Homo sapiens: one gene and its partner. The protein of the gene in region 1 interacts with the protein of each later gene in a biochemical or structural test. Each region holds a gene or a part of one and is shown in the gene's direction. Other genes may lie near its edges.

Region 1 (7,556 bases):
ATTATATATATAATTATATATATATATATATTTTTTTTTTAGATGGAGTCTCGCTCTGTTACCAGGCTGGAGTGCAGTGGCACCATCTCGGCTCACTGCAACCTCGGCCTCCTGGGTTCAAGCAATTCTGCCTCAGGAGGGAGAGGCAGGGACTAGGTGGGACTACAGGCACACGCCTGGCTAATTTTTTGGGGTGTTTTTTTTTTGTATTTTAGTAGAGACGGGGTTTCACCATGTTGCCCCAGGCTGGTCTCCAACTCCTGAGCTCAGGGAAGTCTGCCCGCCTCGGCCTCCCAAAGTGCTAGGATTACAGGTGTGAGCCACTGTGCCCGGCCGATAAATATATTTTTAAAACAGCAAACCAATCATTATGGGAAAGAATCGGTAATTTGGTTGACTTCTGCACGGTTATTTTATAGCTAAGTATTGTATTTATTTTTGTTTCCACATGGGAGAGAGGCACCAGCCACTTTTCACTGTTAGGGTTTCTTTTTCTTTTTTTTTTTTTTTTTTGAGATGGAGTCTCGCTCTGTCGCCCAGGCTGGAGTGCAGTGGCACAATCTTGGCTCACTGCAAGCTCCGCCTCCCGGGTTCACGCCATTCTCCTGCCTCAGCCTCCTGAGTAGCTGGGACTACAGGCGCCCGCCACCACGCCCGGCTAATTTTTTGTATTTTTAGTAGAGACGGGGTTTCACCATGTTAGCCAGGATGGTCTCAATCTCCTGACCTCGTGATCCACCCACCTTGGCCTCCCAAAGTGCTGGGATTACAGGCGTGAGCCAACTGTTCAGGATTTCTAAAGTTCCTAATACAACCCTGGTGGGGTCAGGGTGGGTGAGTGGGAGTGGGCAGGTGTTATACGCAAAGGCATGGTGCTTGTAAAGTCAACAAGTTTTTACAGCTAGAGTGCAAAATGTGAATGTCTTAGGGAGTCTAGTGAGAACAAGTTTGAAGAGATGGAGTGGCAGATAAAGCTTGAAGAGCTAAGTGGAGGAGGTCAGGCTTCATGAGGCAGGAAATTGAGAGCCATTGGTGGTTCTAGAACAGAGACCTGGTAATAAGGCTGTAGGTCAATTAACATGGTAGCCACAGCTGGGATAGATTGTGTTGGAATCGTGGGAGATGGTTGCATTCATCCAGTGGTTCTCAAATTCTCATGTGCCTCTACATCACCTGGAGAGCTTATTGAAATACAGATAATGCAGCTTCTGGCTGGGCACGGTGGCTCACGCCTGTAATCCCAGCACTTTGGGAGGCTGAGGTGGGCGGATCACTTGAGGTCAGGAGTTCCAGACCAGCCTATCCAACATGGTGAAACCCCATCTCTACTAAAAATACAAACATTTGACTGGGTGCAGTGCCTCACACCTGTAATCCCAGCACTTTGGGAGGCCGAGGCAGGCGGATCACCTGAGGTTGGGAGTTCCAGACCAGCCTGACCAACATGGAGAAACCCAGTCTTTACTAAAAATACAAAATTAGCCGGGCATGGTGGTGCATGCCTGTAATCCCAGCTACCCGGGAGGCTGAGGCAGGAAAGTCGCTTGAACCCGGGAGGCAGAGGTTGTGGTGAGCCGAGATCACACCACTGCACTCCAACCTGGGCAACAAGAGTGAAACTCTGTCTCAAAAAAAAAAAAAAAAATTAGCTGGGTGTGTTGGCACATGCCTGTAGTCCCAGCTACTTAGGAGGCCGAGGCAGGAGAATTGCTTGAACTTGGGAGGGCGGAGGTTGCAGTGAGCTGAGATCATGCCACTGTACTCCAGCCTGGGCAACAGAGCGAGACTCTGTCTCAAAAAAAAAAAATGCAGATGATGCAGCTTTTGATGAAGTCGTAGGCCTGGGGTGGGGGCCTAGGAATCTGCATTCATAACAAACTCCCAGGTGAAATGGATGGTACTGGTCAGGGACCATACTTTGAAAACTACTGCACTAATCCAACCATGAAACTTACATTTGGATCGAACTTTGGAAATGACAGAGAAAGGGCGATGATTTCAAAGGAAAGATAAATCAGCGTATGTTGCTTGATTAAATGTTGGAACTAACAGAAGGCAGGCAAAATTATAAGGTTCTCAAGCCCAAAGTAATGTCAGATAAGCTAGATAAGAGGGAAGTTGGAAAGGAAGTTGCCTTGGATGCAGGATGAGGAGGGGAGGATACAGAGTTCTGTTTTGGACATGATAGTGCTAACAATGATGCCCAGTGCACAGTATGATGACATGGGACTGAGACTTAGGAACGATCACAGGTTAGAAGCCAGATACCTCAGAATGTCCTACAGAGGGGCTGTGGTTGAAACCTAGGGAAGGGAGAAATTGTCCAATGGCTAAGAGCTGAGAGTCAACCAAGGATGGAACCCTGGGACAGGCCTCCAGTTGATGAAGTAGGACCAGTAAGTTGGACAGAGAAGCAGAAAGAGATTCTGGATGTTGTAATTACACAGGTGCTAAGGGAAGAGAAGTTTTCAAAGAAGTAGAAGTCACAAGGGTAGGTGCCTGGATACTTCTGGTTTCTTACCTCCTGTTGTGAATCTGACTGGCAAATTGCTACTCACCTTCTACACCCAGCTGAGCCATTGCCCCCATGAAGCCCTCCTAGACTTTCCACCTCTCCCTACTCAAGTGGAGTCATTCTCCGTCTGCTTTGCATCAGTCCTGCCCCTTGGGTAAAACCTCAATTGTAGTTGGTTGCTTTTGTTTATGCTTCTGAGGTCTTAACCTTGGTGAAGTGTGGAATGGGGAACACTCAGAATGCTGTTTTCAAATAGCTGTGCCAAGAAACTCAGCTCAGGTGAAGCTTGTCCCTTTGCACAAGGCCAAGTTAGAGGGGAAAATAGGGCCCAGGTGTGGATCATCTTGCTGCTCCCACCTCCACCTGCAGGCGTTTTTCTGCCCACTTCCCTGGGGGTAGGGAGGGAGGAAAGGCTATAAAAATGGGCAACCAACTCTTTATAGAGATTTGTTTCATGTTAGACTCTCCTGTCCAAGGAGCAGGGAAAGAATGTCTTAATTTTTTCCTGAAAGTAGCTTGTTACGAGTTAAATTGTGTACCCTGAAAATATATATGGTTAAGTTCTTAACCCCCGTGCCTCAGAATGTGACCTTATTAGTTAAGATTAGTTCAGGTGAGGTCGTAAGTAGGGTAGGATGGACCTTAATCCAACATGACCAGAGTCCCTATAAGAAAAGGAGAAGGAGACACATGGAGAATGCTATGTGACAACAGAGGCAGAGATAGGAGTGACACATCTAGAAACCAAGGAACACCAAGGACTGATGGCCACTGCCAGAAGCTAGAAGAGGCAAGGAAGGATTTTTCCCTAGAGCCTTTGGATAGAGTATGGCCCTGTCCACACCTTGATTTCAGACTTCTAGCCAACTGCTAGCCTCTAGGACTCGGCGACAACAAATTTCTGTTGTTTTAAGCCACCCAGTTTGTGGTGTTTCGTTATGGTATCCCTAGGAGGCTAATTTATACCTACTCATAGAAACTTAGGAAAATACATTGAAGGATAAACTAACCACCCATAATTCCACCAAGCAGGTAATCACTGTTCCCAGTGTTAGTGTCTATCTTTTGGGGTTTTGCCTGAAGACTGACAACTGTAGAGATATTTCTATCCTTGCAAAATTGAGCCCACCCTGTAGAGAGTATTCACATTTAAACAGAAGACAAGCTAGAACAGGTATTGAAAGAAAACAATTTTATTGTCTTATGGTGAATTTTTAGATATTGGGGCACCTCAGGAGGGGTGAGTTTTCTGGGGGAAAACCTGCCTGTTGAGACAGAATGGGTGATAATGTGAGGGCCCTTTGGAGAAGGCAGCTTTATATTGAGAGAGAGAGAGAGAGAGAGAAGAGAGAGGGAGACAGGAAAGAGAAGAGAGAGAAGAGAGAGAAGAAAGAGGAGAGGAGAGGCTGGATGATGGAACTGGAGAAAGAACTGCAGTGGACAGGCCTGACTTGCCCAAGAGTTGCCTCAGTGGGCCTTTCTGTTTGTTTCTGACTGTAAGCCTCTTGTTTCTTTTTCTCCTCTTTCTGTTTGTCCTGGGATCAAACCAAGGTCCACAATAATTGTGAATACAGCACCCAGATACTTTCCAGGTTCTGGCAGGTTGGTTCATGCCACTGAATCCACCCTTATTGTGTCCTGAAGACTGAAGGCAAATACTCCTGTCCCCTCAGAGCAACCCGACTTCTTTTTTGTCTCCTTGACTTTGCAAAACGTTTCTCAGGATGAGTAGATTTATGCTACCGCCCAGCATTCACTGGGGTTCTCAGAACATCAGTAATAGCTATTTTCAGCATGTAGCAATTAGTGCATCTTAAATCTCTTTTGAAATAATGGAAATGAAAAAAATGTTCCACAAATTACAATAAAAATGAAATGGCAGCCTCCCTAATGTGCTCCAGGTTTGATGAGGGTACAATTTAAAAGAAAGATAAGTTCTTGCTAATACACACACACATACACACAATCTATGCTCTCTGAATGTTAGAAAAATGTTAAACTAGGCCAGGCGCAGTGGCTCATGCCTATAATCCCAGCACTTTGGGAGGCTGAGGCGCATGGATCACTTGAGGTCAGGAGTTGGAGACCAGCCTGGCCAACATGGTGAAATCCTGTCTCTACTAAAGTTACAAAAATTAACTGAGTGTGATGGTGTGCACCTGTAGTCCCAGTTACTTGAGAGGCTGAGGCAGGAGAACCACTTGAACCCAGGAGGTGGAGGTTGCAGTGAGCCAAGATTGCCCCACTGTACTCCAGCCTGGGTGACAGAATGAGACTCCGTCTCAAAAAACCAACAGAACATTACACACAAAGAAAAATGTTAAATTATTAATTGTCACTACTGTAAATTTTCACATAATCACTCATTTGTTCTGATACCTGCTGAGGTCAAAGTCCTTGTATAAATTTGAGATGGATTTTAGTTTTACAGGGACTCACGTTTTTCTTCTGGGCAGGAGCATAGGCATACTGTGACAGGCTTAACAAACCCTGAACTGAAATGACTTTATGTTAGAAGGGGAAGCCTCATATCCTGCTGATGGGAACATACAGTAGGGCAGCCACTTTGGAAAACAGTCTCAAAATAAACATTGTGTTACCATATCATACAGCAATTCTTTTAGGTGCATATTCAGGAGAATTGAAAACATATATCTGCTCAAAAACTTGTATATGAATGTTTATAGCAGCATTATTCATAATAGGCAAGAAGTAGAAATGACACAAATTTTTATCAGCTGATGAATGAATACATAAAATGTGGCTTATCCATACAATGGAATTATTTGGCCAAAAAAAAAAAAAAAAGGAATGAAGTACTGATGCACGCTACAACATGGATGAAACTTTGAAACATGCTAAATAAAAGAAGCCAGTTGCAAAGTACCACATACTGTATGGTTTCATTTATATGAAATGTCCAGAATAGGCAAATCCATAGAGACAGAAAGTAGATCCATGGCTGCCAGGGGCTGAGGGAAGTAGAACTGTGGAGTGACTGCTAATGGGCACAGAGTTTCTTTTTGGGGTGATGAAAATGTTCTAAAATTGATTGTGGTGTTGGTTGCATAGCTCTGAATATACTGAAAACTGCTGAATTGTACACATTAAATGGGTGTATTGTATGGTATGTGAATTATATCTCAATACAGCTGCTTGCTAGCTAGCTAGCTAGAGATATTCACATTGTCAGCCCCTCACTACGTGTACCAGGACAACACTCTGTACTTCTCAAAGACACAAGCTGTCTCTGCTCTGTAAACACTACATTCTGCAGAGGTGCAAATTCAGATAGCCTTGTTATTCTCTTGGAGAAGTACGTACTTCTTTATTTGCCCCAAATAGAAAGAGTAATGGTCCCATGATGAATGAGCAGAAAGTAAGACCATTTGTGGCTACACTTGATAAATGCGTCATTTTTATGAAATCTGGACAGTTACAAATTAGGATGCAATCTACCTGCCTGGACTGTTTAGCCTGTCGACAATAATAATCTTAGGGAGCTCTAAGAGAGGTTGGGGAATGTGGCAGCTGTATTTCTTAGCAGCTGAGCACTTGGAAAAAAAAGTGGATTAATCATCATACATATGGTGATCCATCAAGATACATTTGCAAATCTATTGAAAACTGATTTTCAAAACCTTTCTCAATTTGTGGCTCTTTGTTCTCATTCAAGATTTTGTGTGAATGGTATTTGGCATTATCAGCACCAACAGGGTGGAATTAGTTGTCCTTTTAATTCTAATTTGGAGATCAATCTTTCCATGTCTGCAGTCCGAATTTTAGCTTCCAAGCCCTAGAATCAGCAGTATTATTCCAGAAATAATTAGGAGCCTCAGAGAATGCCGTGAGGACATTGAGTATCTATTAAGCGTGAGGTTTTGACGGTACGAAAAGCCATTTCACTTAAGATGTACCTTGTCTCAAGCACCTTTAGTGACCCCAGAAGGAAAGCATTGGATGGGCGGTATGTAGATGGGCTCATTTGTCTTCCTTTTATGTACTAAATGCTTAATGAATCCATCTGGAAGAATGGTAATTTGCTTACTAATACAGATTTTCCAGGGCACTGATGGCTTCAGGTGGCAGACAGACGGGCCTCATGTGTTAAGTACAAAGTGTTAAGCCAACATGTGTTAAATACAAAGGATACTTCATAGCCTTTCAGTTTGCAAGGTATAGATAGTTAAGTATCCTCCTTCTCCAGGTCTTCTCAGTTTTTAGGAGCTATTAGCTTCCGTGCAAGGCATAACTGGCACCAGACCTTTCTACCTTGTTTGTATGTAGTGTGTTTGGCGAAGCAGGTGGAGCTGGAGCTGAAGCAGGTTCAGGCACGCCTCCCTCACATTTCTACTGGAAATCAGATGAAGCTTGAGATGAGAAAAAAATCAGATCTATGCCTCATTCAGTTATATTCAATTAAGAGAGAGGAAAGCATTTAATGGGTTGGGATTGGGTTTTCAGGCTTCTTTCCTAAGAATTTGTTTTCCTTCTATGTGGTTGTAGAATAAATTTGCTATTTTATTTTATTTTTTTGAGACAGAGTCTCACTGTGTCACCCAGGCTGGAGTGCAGTGGCATGATCTCGGCTCACTGCAACCTCCGCCTCCCGGGTTCAACCGATTCTCCCGCCTCAGCCTCCCGACTAGCTGGGATTATAGGCGTGAGCCACCACACCCAGCTAATTTTTACATTTTTACTAGAGATGGTGTTTCACCATGTTGCAAGGCTGGTCTCGAACTCCTGACCTCAGGTGATCTGCCCACCTCGGCCTCTCAAAGTGCTGGGATTGCAGGTGTGAGCCACCACGCCTGGTGTAAATTTGCTATTTTAAATAGCAATGATGATGAGGTATAATTAAGACTCTCTGTTTAGTGTTAGGGCAGGATAATAATAGTAGCTAGTATGTGTTGAGCCATGGTAAGTACAGGTTGAGCATCCCGTCTCTGAAATCCTTGGGACCAGAAGTGTTTCCAGTTTTTTCAGATGTTGGAATATTTGCATATACATAATGACTTATCTTGTGGATGGTACTCAAGTC
Region 2 (8,524 bases), on another chromosome or scaffold:
AGACGAAAGGTCTAAATTCCCAGTTAACAAAGCAAAAATAGAAGCCTGACAGAAATAGCTATGAAATAAGCCAGGATTTATTTAGATGCACCTCTGGGAGAAGATGGGCTTTAATGTGGTGTTCCCAGAGCCGCTTCCCTGTTTTCCATGCTCTTCTCCCCATCCGCCTCTCCCCCAAGCTTTGTTGTGAAAGAAAAGAAAACTTCACACTCCACACTGGGCTAAAGGGCAGTCTTACTCTGACAGGAATCAATGTGAATGGAAGGAAAGAAGCAAGGAGATAGGCGAGTAAGGTAACGAGGGAGGGGCAGGCAGGCAATCTTCTCAGGAACATCTATGTTAGATCTGGAGAAGGGGTAGAAGGGAGGGTAAACGGTGTAACTTCTTTAACCCTTAGAATTTAGGGCTCCTTGCATAGTCATCTAATTTCCTAAATCACTATGCACTTGATGGTGGACTCCATTGGTAGCGAAGAGGAAATATCAATACAAATTCCAGGCAGGAATACTTCCAACACAGAAAAACTCCTCAGGCCACCAACACTATTTTCTGCCCACCTTGAACAGTGGACGCCTCACTTCCTTCTTAATGCAATTTTTAATTCTTCAGACACACTCCTCATTCCGACTCTGATCAACTGTGCTCCTCTCCCTGTTCTCAGTATCAGCTGCTTCGTTTCGCCTTCTTTCCCCAACTTGCTATGACTCTTGCCCCAATACTGACTGCAGCCTCCCCATCCCACCCCGCATCATTGGTCAACTAATTCCATTAATCCAACTAATCCTCGCACTCACTGATTGCCCAGTATTAAACTCCTTCACCCTCTCGCACGAGTCATCATACTTGGTAACATCTTTATATTGACCCCTCAGTGACCCCCCACAATGACGACCTGCCATCCATTCTTTCCTCACATCACCCCTCCCTCCAGGCTGTCTTCTCTCAGCCGCAACCCATTCCTCAAGCTACCCCCTTCCTCCTGGACTCCAGCCCCACCCCTCCTGGCGCAGATCCCTTCCACCTTGATCCTCTCCCCTGTACGACTCCGCTCCTCCATCCTCCCACAGGACCCCCTCTTCCTCACGCAGACCCCCACATACCTATCTCCTCTCCCGCCGACCCCCTCCTCGGTACTCTCCTCGCACAGCTCCGGGTCACGAATACCGCCCTCGCATCCCGACTCCACTAGCCTTTGCCCGCCCCCGCCTTCGCCGCCTCACTCTCCCTACGCTGACACTAAGGCCCCTCCGCTGGGCCTCTTCCCAAAGCGGAGCCCACCCGGAACGAACCCCAGCCCTGGGAACCCACCAAGCCCACTCTACCGCGCCCACCCGGTCCGATACCGCCCCCAGCCCCAGCCACTCCCCCACCGCCCCCGGCCTTCACTCACCCGCCTCCCTCCGCTCGCGCAGCCGAACCTGCAGGCAGCGACACCTGACAGCGGCCCAATCAAAGCGCGACTTCTTTGCGGTTCCACCAATCAGCGAAGGGCGCGCACCGGTAACAGAGTCAGGCTGCGTTGGCCGGCGCTTCTGCGCGGAGGAGCGTGACCCCTAGTGGCTCTGGGAGGGAATGCAACTTGATGCTCCCTTCCTTTGATTTCTTAGTGTGTCGCCAAAGTCCAGAAGCGTGGTCTAGACAGAGACGTTTCATGAGACGACGGGGTGGGTGGGAAGCCTCATGCTGAGAAAGAGGAAGAGGCAGAGTTTGTGCCATTGCTGTTCCTTCAGAGCAAAAACCAGGTCTTCCCTTTGTCTTATGAGACAAAACAGGGTCTCATATATGTACAGATCCAATAAATAAAGGTTGAAAATTTTAACAGATGTAAAGAGGACTGATAGGGAGACTGGAGACAAAAAAGAGACAAGGAGAGAAGCAGATAAGAAAGTTAAGGGAAGGAACAGAGAGACATTTACAGAGGAGGCAAGAAAGTGGATGGACCTGGAACTCTAGACAAATTGATTCCTATCTCCACAGCCTGCTTTTTCTCTATGCTCCAGACAAAGCTGGATTTGAATCCTGGCCTTACCTCTAATAGCTGTGCAGCCTTGAGCGACTCACTTAATTTCTCTGAGCCTTTATTTTTCTCATCCATAAAAATAGGATTAAAAACCTAGGGCTGGGCTCGGTGGCTCACGCCTGTAATCCCAGCACTTTCGGAGGCCAAGTTAGGCGGATCACTAGGTCAGGAGGTCGAGATCATCCTGGCCAACATGGTGAAACCCCGTCTCTACTGAATATACAGAAATTAGCCGAGTGTGGTGGTGCGCACCTGTAATCCCAGCTACTCGGGAGGCTGAGGCAGGAGAATCGTTTGAACCCGGGAGGTGGAGACTGCAGTGAGCCGAAATGGCGCCACTGCACCCCAGCCTGGTGAGAAAGCCAGACTCCTTCTCAAAAAAAAAAAAAGAACCCAAAAAAACCCCCCAAAAACCTAATTAAGGCCAATTGTAGTGGCTCGCGCCTACAATCCCAGTACGTTGGGAGGCCGAGGCGGGCAGATCGCTGGAGTGCAAGGAGTTCAAGACCAGCCTGGTCAACATGATGAAACTCTGTCTCTACAAGAAATGCAAAAGCTAGCCAGGTGTGGTGGCGTATGCCTGTGCTCCCAGCTACTTAGGAGGCTGAGGCGGGAGGATCACTTGAGCCTGGGAGATGGAGTTTGCAGTGAGCCAAGATCACCTCACTACATTCCAACCTGGGTGACAGAGCGAGGCCCTGTCTCAAAAAACAACAACAACAAAACACCTCACTTAAAGGTACTGATAATATGAAAGCATTTTGTATTGTATATGTTATTGCTCTTATTATCCTCGCATCTTCACTTGGGTTTCCCTGGTCAAGACAGTTGTTCCCTTTTCCTTCTCTGCAATATTAGGGGTCTTGCCACTTTTCCAGTCGTGCCTCATTGTACTGACCCCACAAGGCCTCCTGAATGGACATAGAAATGATTCTAATGGCTTGAATAGATTATTCTAAGAGGAATAGATGCCTCCCTAGTTCATGCTCAGGCTCATACCCCCTCCACCACTCTAGCCCTTCAAACTAGCTATTACAGCATCTTCCAGGTATTTAACTCCCCTTACTATCCCCATGAAAATGTAGACTCTGTCCCCAGTAATCATTGGAACAATCCAATTCAACTCAATGAAATAATACATATAAAAGTTCCTTGTAATTGTAAAGTGCTTTAAAAATATTAAATACTATTGACAACAATAATTCTTATTAAATAAATGAAATACCATATAACAATACCATATATTGATTACTTCCATATGCTGCAAAATAATTTTTTAAATGAGCATTAATATATTATGTGCTTGTAAAAGGCACACAAGGGATAAGAAAAGTGCATAAGTACATGTGTTTTCTCAGTGGAATTATTGTTCACATTTGGGAAGCTACTCTCTAAACTTGGGTAATTTCTCTACTCCTCTGGCTGTCTTATTTCTCCTTCGGTAATTATCTCTTCCCACTTCCTATTCCTTAGTAACACCCTCTCAATCAAATAGCAACCCTACTGCTCTGGAAGATTATCTCCCTATTTATCTGGATAAATACACGCTATTCTAAGAAATTATATTTATTTACTCATGGCTACTTTTCAACCTAGGTAAAGAGGCCCCACAACACAGGTAACATTTTCCACACTACAGCTGCATAACTCTGTTCTCTAATAATTGATGTCTTACCAGAAGAAGAAGGGATGGACCCAAGAGAGAAGTGGACACTTCTAAGAATACCCACAAATGACAAAGGTAGAATAAAAGGACACAAGGAAGGCCTAAGGAGAATGAAGGGAATGAGAGTAATATGGGGGAATTTTCTATGTAAAGGGAATTCTCTTTCCCAAATACTCTCTGTTAAGATTTCCAAGTATCTGTCTTGTGGGTACACCAGGATAGCAGAGGGAAGGGACTAATGCCACGGTGCTACTCCACCTTAACTGACCCTCCACGCTGAAGCCCCTCATCTCTATTTCAACTCTAGCATTCATTCTCCTTGCTACCAGGACAAAGGTCAAATCATACCTGGAGCTGGGAAACAAAGCCCTCTCAAATCTGAATATGTGTTTCACGAGGAGAGAGAGAGCAGCAGAGGGGACCACGAGGAAGGCAGAGATTCCCTGACCACCTCATGCCTTTGTACACCACTCGCCTTTACTCTCTGGATTAAACAGCATTAGGGAGACAAGAGAGGAAACACATGTGGTGTCTGGAGACCTGTGCCTGCCTGTTCCAGTCCCACACCCAGTCATCTCACCACACCCTTCACCTCACTTTACCTTCTCCTCCAGCACAGGAACTAGGAACTACGGAGAGAGAAGCCAAGGGAGAGGAGGAGGAGGAAACTAACGATTCCCTGCCCACCCCCACACCCAGCACCACCAACAGGTGGGCAAGCTTGCCGAGAAAACGCAGAGGGCATCCTGTGAGCAGCAAACACATCTGAGCCTGGAAAAGACGCAGAGAAGTAAAAGATCAAAGGTGAGGTAGGGGACGTGGAGGAAAGTGGGAGAGACAAAAGGAAAACAAAAAGTGGGGGATCATGAGAAGCAGAGGCAGGAAATAACAGGGCTTCAGACTTGGGTGCAGAATGGAGGTGGAGGACACAGCACAGATGGCATAAGAATTAATATTTCCTTGGTTCCTCCCAGGGAGTCCTTTCTCAACTTTGTAAGGCGTGCACAGAGGTGGCAAGGAAGCACCTTGCTCCTCTTCCTGGTTCTAAGGAAAAGGTGACCTTGAGCCAGTGGGTGTCTTTCCCAGTGCCTGCCTCTAACCCTGTGCTTTCTCCATATCCTCCTCTGGTATCTGTGTTTATTCCGCGGTTTCCCCGCGGCTGCCCCCGGGAGACCGAAGAGGTGGCTGGGGCAGGCCGAAAGCAGAGGAAAGGTTGGGCAGTGTCACCCTTGCACACCCACAGGGTAGACGGATCGAGTTTCAGCTTAAACCGAGGGGTGTGGGGGAAGGGTGTTGGGTTCAGCTAGTCCACGTGGGTGCTGTCCTCCACTTGGTGCTGAAATCTGGGCGGCCACATCCCCGGGGCGGGAGGGGGCTACATCCCCGGCTTTAGACGCGCGAGTCTCAGGTCCCGCTAATTACCTGGCGGGTGCTGCCCACCCCTGCCCTCGCGCACCTAGCGCGGTGGCAGGCGGGAAGGCGGGGCCTGGGGGAGCCCCACCCCTGGAGACTGCGGCTGGGGCCTCCCTCTCCTCCGCCCGCCCGCCTGCCACTAGCTCATTGCGCCTCTCCTGCAGTCTGATTGGCACCGGCTCCCATTCCGGCTCCAGCCTCCAATCCGACCCCCATTTCGGCTGCAGCCTCGGACCTAGCTCCGGCCCTCGGTCTATCCGGTTGCATCCTCCCTCCCTGTTCCGGATCTTATCTTGCGCCAGCGCCTACTCCAGGATCCCGTAGCCAGACCTCAAGCCATGGCTGGTCCCTTCTCCCGTCTGCTGTCCGCCCGCCCGGGACTCAGGCTCCTGGCTTTGGCCGGAGCGGGGTCTCTAGCCGCTGGGTTTCTGCTCCGACCGGAACCTGTACGAGCTGCCAGTGAACGACGGAGGCTGTATCCCCCGAGGTAACAGTGCCTGAGGCGCGGGAGGAGGCGGGGGCAGGAGGTGATGGGAACGAAGGTGCGGGTAGAAGTGAGAATCCGGGCAACAGAGAAGGGCTATAATCACGAAGGCCCTGGAGCTGGAGGGCTGTGCAGTCTGCAGACCTCAGTGGGGTGGGGGTGGGGGCCAAAACCATAAAGCAAGAACATTCCTGGGGACCTGCCAAGACCAGCTCTGGCCCTACGAGTTCTAGCTGCACTGGCTGCCCAAATCCCTAATTGTAAAGCCAGGAACTATCCTTTTCGCTCCCCTCCATCTCCTTCCCTCATTTCCTCAATTCCTCTCCTTAGGCTTTTCCCCTCCTCCATCCGTAGTGTTGTGTCATGGGAGGAAAGAACTGAGCAGATCTGAAGAAACTGAGCTGGCCAGCCAGAGGCAACTAGAACTATTAGGAAAGCATAGACTCTGAAAGTCCCTAAAGAGATTACCAAGGTTTACCCTCTTTCTAATTCCCCCTCCTCCCGCGGAGCAAAGCCAGACATGGCCAACTGGACAGCTCCCAGGTAACTGCACTAGGTCTAGGCGTCTGTGCCCTCCCTCCATGGTTACTGGGTACCCCCTCCCCAGCGCTGAGTACCCAGACCTCCGAAAGCACAACAACTGCATGGCCAGTCACCTGACCCCAGCAGTCTATGCACGGCTCTGCGACAAGACCACACCCACTGGTTGGACGCTAGATCAGTGTATCCAGACTGGCGTGGACAACCCTGGCCACCCCTTCATCAAGACTGTGGGCATGGTGGCTGGAGATGAGGAGACCTATGAGGTAGGGGGTCCCCAGAGTCTCCCTGATGATCCAATTCATCTTCCCAGTAATCCCAGCTCCTTTCCCCTAAAGACCTCTCACTTTCCCCCAAGACTCTGAGCCCCCCATACTTAAGTTTTCTGAACCAGTGAAATCAATGCACAATTGAAGTCTGGGGAGGGATTCCCTCTCCTTAACCATCTCTCCCTCTTAACTCCCCTTAGGTATTTGCTGACCTGTTTGACCCTGTGATCCAAGAGCGACACAATGGATATGACCCCCGGACAATGAAGCACACCACGGATCTAGATGCCAGTAAAGTGAGTTCAAATATCCCACTTCTGATTTGCATTGCCTGTGTACAACACTCTGTATCTCCAACCCCTTCACCTTATTTCCTGACTCATGGTCATTATACAGCTGAGCTTTTAATCTTAATGTAAGGAAAGAATCATATCTTAAGGGGCAGCATATATGGAGATGGAAGGATAGATAAGAATGACCATGACCCAAGGTGGGTGGTTTGGGGAAAGGTCTGCAATGCCCCCTTCAATTCCAGTGCTTTCCCAAAGGGCCTCTTCTTCCAATGCATGCAGGAAGAATGCACAAAGAGTCCTCTAATGCCTAAGGAAGGTCTCTCCTTTCCCAGGGGCCCTCAGTTCCCACCGTGTTTCTGTGACTTACATTCATTTCCCTTATCTCCCAGATCCGTTCTGGCTACTTTGATGAGAGGTATGTATTGTCCTCTAGAGTCAGAACTGGCCGAAGCATCCGAGGACTCAGTCTGCCTCCAGCTTGCACTCGAGCAGAGCGACGAGAGGTGGAACGTGTTGTGGTGGATGCACTGAGTGGCCTGAAGGGTGACCTGGCTGGACGTTACTATAGGCTCAGTGAGATGACAGAGGCTGAACAGCAGCAGCTTATTGATGTGAGGGCCTTAAGAGGGTGCTGGTTGGTGGGAGCAGATGGGGAAGGCTGGGCCAGATGAGACATGGGCTCTGAAAGGCCCAGGGGCCACCATGAAGATTCTTAACCCAAGTCCCGTTACTCTTCCCAGGACCACTTTCTGTTTGATAAGCCTGTGTCCCCGTTGCTGACTGCAGCAGGAATGGCTCGAGACTGGCCAGATGCTCGTGGAATTTGGTATGAAGCTGCTCATTACCTCTTTTGTCTTCATGCCCTCATAAATGCTTTTTTTCCCTCTATCTCTCCCAATTCTTGCCTTGCCTCTTGATCACTGTCCCTCTCCGGCCCTCAGGCACAACAATGAGAAGAGCTTCCTGATCTGGGTGAATGAGGAGGATCATACACGGGTGATCTCCATGGAGAAGGGTGGTAACATGAAGAGAGTGTTTGAAAGATTCTGCCGAGGCCTCAAAGAGGTTAGAGAAGATTGTGTAGGGGAGCTAGGTGGGAGGACATAAGGAAAACCAAAGAGTAGCATAAATAGATTATGTAATTTATCAACCAACCCAAGACATGTCTGATGGTAAAAAGGACTACCTAGGACTCACTCTAGGACTAAAGGTATAAACCAGCTGGGACCATACTGGGAAAACCAGGACATGTGGTCACACTAAGATTAGGAAAAGAGTGTCAGGAACCTTAGAAAGTGAAGAAGGCAGGTAATGCAAAGAAGGAATAACTGAGATGGCACGTCAGTGCCTGGGATGTGTGCAGTGGGATGGTGAGGTGTGCAGATAAGGAAAACATTCGAGCTTAGATTGATGTTGGCGGGGAGAGGTTGCTGTGTTCATGACTCTAATATAACCACCCAGTTCTGAGACAAGGTAGGCCTTGACTCTGGATTCTATCATTCTTGTTAAAGTATCGGGTCTAGGCTTTAAGTTGAGAGTTCAGAGGGAGACTGGGGAAGGTGGAGGATAGAATGGTTCGAGTTCTAGAATATGTGGCTCTAGATGAGAGGTTGAACTGAATCATCAATCCTACATGGATTGGGTCTCCGTATTCAAGTCTACATTAGAAATCCCCATAAACTCAATTCAATTCTTACTGTATGTTCTCAAACATACAGTTCTATTTTAGGTTTGCAAAGAAAAAGAGCTCCTCTTTTAGATTCTGAGAAGTTTCTACTATTTTTGGCAAGTAATAGATAACATATTCTGACTATGAGTGGGTAGGGAAGTACCTTTAAA

The links. Proteins that work in one complex are often made in the same cells at the same time.
Region 2: of the proteins of ASB9 (region 1) and CKMT1A, one has a biochemical effect on the other in vitro, tested with the Homo sapiens proteins (one study listed by BioGRID).

What each region holds. Positions count from the first base shown.
Region 1 is NC_000023.11:15,259,893-15,267,448, reverse strand, and holds part of ASB9 (ankyrin repeat and SOCS box protein 9), read left to right. Parts: intron 1-7,556. UniProt on the Homo sapiens protein: Substrate-recognition component of a cullin-5-RING E3 ubiquitin-protein ligase complex (ECS complex, also named CRL5 complex), which mediates the ubiquitination and subsequent proteasomal degradation of target proteins.
Region 2 is NC_000015.10:43,688,614-43,697,137, forward strand, and holds the start of CKMT1A (creatine kinase U-type, mitochondrial isoform 1 precursor), read left to right. Parts: upstream 1-5,245; 5' UTR 5,246-5,437; coding exon 5,438-5,586; intron 5,587-5,913; exon of another isoform or gene 5,914-6,097; coding exon of another isoform or gene 6,098-6,190; coding exon 6,191-6,389; intron 6,390-6,592; coding exon 6,593-6,688; intron 6,689-7,074; coding exon 7,075-7,296; exon of another isoform or gene 7,297-7,297; intron 7,298-7,425; coding exon 7,426-7,511; exon of another isoform or gene 7,512-7,515; intron 7,516-7,626; coding exon 7,627-7,750; intron 7,751-8,524. UniProt on the Homo sapiens protein: Reversibly catalyzes the transfer of phosphate between ATP and various phosphogens (e.g. creatine phosphate).